Regions from separate parts of the Homo sapiens genome. Here region 2 is linked to region 1. The links come from fine-mapping of genetic effects on gene expression. Tissue or cell type: whole blood. Region 1 holds a variant in brackets; the other region holds the start of a gene. All regions are shown on one strand. Distances are from middle to middle.

Region 1 (2,684 bases):
CCTCCTGGGCTCAGGTGATTCTCCTTTCTCCTGAGTAGCTGGAACCGTGGGCGCGCACTACCATGCCTGGCTAATTTTTGTGTTGTTTTGTATGGAGATAGGGTCTCACCACGTTGCCCAGCTAGTCTTGGACTCCTGGGCTCAAGTGATCCACCTGCCCCGGCCTCCCGAAGCATTAAGATTACAGGTTTGAGCCACTGCGTGCAGCCTGGGCTGTGTTTAGAATCCATCACTCCTAAACGTTTCCTCATGTTCCTCTGTTATCCCTTCCTCTCACCCCTCCTGAAGCCCCGCCTCCATCTTCAGGAAATCACTGATCTGCTCTCTGACATTTTAGACTAGTTTACATTTTTCTAGAATTTTATATAAATGAAATTATATAGTATATATATATTTTTTACTGATATATAAAAGTTGTACATGTTTATGGGGTACATATAATATTTTAATACATGCATAGAATGGGTAATGATCAAGTCAAGGTAATTGGGATATCCATCACTTCAGACATTTGGGAACAACCTGGATGGAACTGGAGGACATGTTAAGTGAAATAAGCCAGGCACAGAAAGGCAAATATTACATTTTCTCACTCATATGTGGGAGCTAAAAAAATTGATCTCATGGAGGGAGTGAGTAGAATGATGGTTACCAGAGGCTGGAAAGGGTCGGGGATGAGGAAGAATGAAGAATGGTTGGTTAATGGGTGCAAAAATGCAGTTAGCTAGGAGGAATAAGTTAAAGTGTTAGCATAATAGGGTGGCTATAGTTAAGAATTTATTGCATGTGGCTGGGTGCTGTGGCTCACACCTGTAATCCCAGCACTTTGGGAGGCCGAGGTGGGCAGATCACCTGAGGTCAGGAGTTCGAGACCAACATGGCCAACATGGGGAAACCCTTTCTCTGCTAAAAGTACAAAAATTAGCCAGGCGTGATGGCGCGAGCCTGTAGTCCCAGCTACTACTCGAGAGGCTGAGGCACAAGAATTGCTTGAACCCAGGAGACGGAGGTTGCAGTGAGCCAAGATTAAGCCACTCCACTCCAGCCTGGGTGACAGAGTGAGATTCTGTCTCAAAAAAAAAAAAAAAAGAATTTATTGTATGTTTCAAAATAGCTAGAAGATTTGAAATGTTCTCAACACGAAGAAATGATAAATGTTGGCCGGGCGCAGTGGCTCACGCCTGTAATCCCAGCACTTTGGGAGGCCGAGGCAGGCGGATCACAAGGTTGAGACCATCCTGGCTAACACGGTGAAACCCCATCTCTACTAAAAATACAAAAAATTAGCCGGGCGTAGTGGCGGGTGCCTGTAGTCCCAGCTGCTCGAGAGGCTGAGGCAGGAGAATGGCTTGAATCCTGGAGGCGGAGCTTGCAGTGAGCCGAGAGGGGGAGACTCCATCTCAAAAAAAAAAGAAATGATAAATGTTTTAGGATATACTCTTTTCATCTGTATCCTTTTTTTTTTTTTGGAGACGGAGTCTTGCTCTGTC[G/A]CCAGGCTAGAGTGCAGTGGCGCGATCTCAGCTAACTGCAACCTCTGCCTCACGGGTTCAAGCGATTCTCCTGCCTCAGCCTCCCCAGTAGCTGGTACTACAGGCGTACGCCACAATACCTGGCTAATTTGTTTTGTATTTTTAGTAGAGACGTGGTTTCACCATGTTGGCCAGGATGGTCTGGTCTTGATCTCCTGACCTCGTGATCCGCCCGCCTTGGCCTCCCAAAGTGCTGGGATTACAGGCGTGAGCCACCGCACCCGGCCTCATCTGTATACGTGCAAACAAAATTTATTTTGAGATTAATTCCTGTTACTGCATGTATCAATAGTTTATTCCTTTTTATTGTGGAATAGTGTCCCATTGAATAGGTGTGCTACATTTTGTTTATGCGTTCACATTTGTGTTGTTTTAAGGTTTTGGCTATTACAAATAAAGTTGCTATGAACATTAGTGTACAAGTCTTTATGTACACATGTGCTCCCATTTCTCTTGGGTAAATACTTAGGACTGGAATAGGAGAGTTACGTGGTAGGTATATGTAAAATGTTTTAAGAACTGTCAAACTTTTTTGCACAGTTGTACCATTTTTCATTCTCATAAGCAGTCTATACGAGTTTGTTCTCATCTAAAGAGTTCAAGTTGCTCTACATCCTTACTGGCACTTGGCATAAGTCTTTGAAATTATAGGCATTTTAATATGTGGGCCATAATAGTTTATCGTCCTAGTCTGCATTTCCCTAATTACTAAGGATTTTGAGTATCTGTACATAGGCTTGTTTACCATTGAGATATCTTCTTTGGCTCCCCCTTCCTGTGCGGTTGCTTGGAAACTCTCCAGGCAGTAAACTCTCATTTGTTTCCTTTCTCTTGGGGATTACTGTCCTTCATTGCCTGGTTTCTAGAATCTTAAAAATCATTGTTTTCTAGATTTTGTCTAGTTTTTGGTTGTTTCAGGTGGGAGAGTAAATCCAGTTACTGTTACTCCATCTTGGCTGGAAATGGAAGTCCCATCCTTTTACTTAAATTTTTTTATACACATAAAATTTACAATTTTAACTATTTTCATTGTACATTAAGTACTTGTTTTACTTTTAACATACCTATATAATTACATTTTAAATAGATTTATTATAGAGAGCACACAGTTTGTCTTTTTAAAAAAAGCCAATCTGTTAATACCTCCTTTTAATT
Region 2 (2,684 bases), 76 kb before region 1:
AACAAAACAAACAAAGCCCCTGCTCCCCACTCAATCTTCCATCTCTGTAAACAGCCCACCATTCACCCAGTTGTCAAGCCAAAGACATAGGGGCTATCCTTGCCTCCTTTTTCTCCCTCATCTTCTGTGTCCCAAGTCCAGTACTCTTTCTTTGTCCACTCCTCTGCATTCCCACTGTCCTCCCTCAGGTCCAGGCAGCCCTCTCTCCTTCCTCCCCTCTGCTCCTTCTCCACGAAAGAGTCAGGCGTGCTTTTCTTTTTTTTTTTTGAGACAGAGTCTCGCCCTGTAGCCCAGGCTGGAGTGCAATGGTGCGATCTTGGCTCACTGCAACCTCCACCTCCCAGATTCAAGCAATTCTCCTGCCTCAGCCTCCAGAGTAGCTGGGATTACAGGCACGTGCCACCACGCCCCGTGAATTTTTTTTTTTTTTTTTTTTTTTTTTTTGGATTTTTAGTAGAGATGGGGTTTCACCATGTTGTCCAGGCTGGTCTGGAACTCCTGACCTCGTGATCCGCCCACCTCAGCCTCCCAAAGTGCTGGGATTACAGGGGTGCTTTTAAGAACACAGATCGGCCAGGTGCGGTGGCTCACGCCTGTAATCCCAGCACTTTGGGGGACAGAGGCGAGCGGATCGCGAGGTCAGGAGTTCGAGACCAGCCTGGCCAACATGGTGAAACCCCGTCTCTACTAAAAATGTAAAAATTAGCCGGGCGTGGTGGTGGGCGCCTGTAATCCCAGCTACTCGGGAGGCTGAGGCAAGAGAATCGCTTGAAACCGGAAGGCGGAGGTTGCAGTGGGCCGAGATTGTGCCACTGCCCTCCAGCCTCGGTGGAAGAGCGAAACTCCGTCTCAAAAAAAAAAAAAAAGAAAAAGAACACAGATCTTCTTGCCCAACAACATCCCTCAAGGACTCCTTTCTTTTTCAGTATCTTGAATAAGACTTAAGAGACAGGTCCTGGAGAAACAGAGAAGGGAGGAGGCAGCCTGAAGGGGGCGGAGGCAAGCTCGTAGCACCGCCTCCACGTCTGGCTTGCGTTCTTCCGGGCTTCGGAACTTTTCTTCGCGGAGCCTGGGGAAGCTTTTCCAGTAGTACTTTCCGGCGTTGTTGACCCTATTTCCCGTGCTGCACCGCAGCCCCTTTCTCTTCCGGTTCTAGGCGCTTCGGGAGCCGCGGCTTATGGTGAGTGTTGGCCGCGCGGCATCCGATGCCATCCGCGACTTACGGGTGGCGGCGGGGCGCGGGCTGCGGAGAGGACTGGTGACCGACCGTGTGTCTGTCGGGAGCAAAAGCTGCGGGGTGGGAATGGTGCTTCTAGGTCCTAGGAGGGGGATGGCAGGGAAAGCCACTTTATTGGGGAATGCAGCTTTCCGGGGGTAAGGAGTTGATTTCAGGGCATCATTACCTGGGTTTGGGAGGCCAGGACTGGCGTTTGGTCGTGCAGAGTAAGCCGAGACTCGTGGAGGCTGCACATTCTCTGCCTGCAGGCTCATTCTGACCAGAATGGGGGGGGCAGAGGTGGCCCAGCCTGGCGAGCCCTTAACCCTGATCTCCACTTTTGTCTTCCAGGTGCAGACATGGCCAAGTCCAAGAACCACACCACACACAACCAGTGTAAGTTTTTTGGGCCCTGCCTACATCCCAGACCCTGGCAAGGACTGGTTCAGGCAAACTGGGACAGAGATGAAGGGGCACGTTTCCATTGTGGGCCTGAGGCTGATTGATTTCACCCAGTAATAACTTTAGGGTTTATAGGTTTAGAGATCTACTTGAGATACAGAGTGTTTTGCATTTAGTAGTAAGGGTTTCCCATATCTCAAGTGTAGCTGCTGTAGGAAGTGTTGGTTCTCCCAGACTTGCCAGCTGTGATGTTGGGTGGTCTTATTAGAGGAAAGTTCTTTGTTGGCTTAATTCCCTTTTTTTCTCCCACAGCCCGAAAATGGCACAGAAATGGTATCAAGAAACCCCGATCACAAAGATACGAATCTCTTAAGGGGGTGAGTGCACTGAATCACATGGAAGTGTCTTTTCTTGGTTCCAGGTGCACAGTCAAGGCCTCTCATGTAGTTTTTCTCTAGCTTTGGCTTCTGCCTGAGCACAGCCTAACTGGCCCACCCAAAGCCTGCAATTCCTTTTTCTACCCTACCAGACCCATAATAAAGCTTTCCTTGGTCTCCACAGCCTGAAGTGTAACCCTCTGGTCAGGGTGTAACCTGCCTCCTGAGGGCAGTTTGGCTATCTCCCTTGCTTGGCAGTGGCACTTAGGGTAAGGAGTGGCCTTGTCTGAGTGCGTGCAGGGCACATTCCCACACTGACCAGCCTTATGACCTCCATCTGACCCAGTGCTGGAGTTGGGGTCAGCTTCTCTTCCTGTGTCAGGGGGTTCTAAGGATTAGCTGAGAAGGCTGGAGGGTCTAGGGGAGAGCTGAGCATGTCCCCAGTCTGTTCCTTCCCTTTACTTTTGCTCTCTGTTCCGTGGAGTGAATCACAAACTCTGAGCCTCAGTTTCCCCATATCCCACCTTGGCTATAAGTCTTTTGGACCAGACTTGGTATTTAATTGACACCTTCTTCTAAAGAGGGGAGGGGGTGTCCCTGAGGGGATGTCAGGAAAAAACTTGGTCGAACCCCTGCTGTAGGAAGTTGAAGCCCCACAACCTTGGCAGACAGGGCAGCAAAGCAGCTTG

The links. PIP is the estimated chance that this variant, and not a neighbour inherited with it, causes the effect.
Region 2: RPL29 starts here. The variant in region 1 is fine-mapped to the expression of RPL29 in whole blood (TOPMed, PIP above 0.99).

The regions. Positions count from the first base shown.
Region 1 is chr3:51,918,779-51,921,462 of GRCh38, reverse strand. No RefSeq gene overlaps it. Among named protein-coding and RNA genes, the nearest start is that of IQCF1, 17 kb to the right of the region's middle. The variant G/A (reference allele first, on the strand shown) is at 1,491.
Region 2 is chr3:51,994,353-51,997,036 of GRCh38, reverse strand. RPL29 (ribosomal protein L29) reads left to right here and starts at 1,142. Exons shown (of 4, transcript NM_000992.3): 1 at 1,142-1,180; 2 at 1,568-1,612; 3 at 1,931-1,995. The coding sequence starts at 1,576. RefSeq lists an enhancer at 1,038-1,197.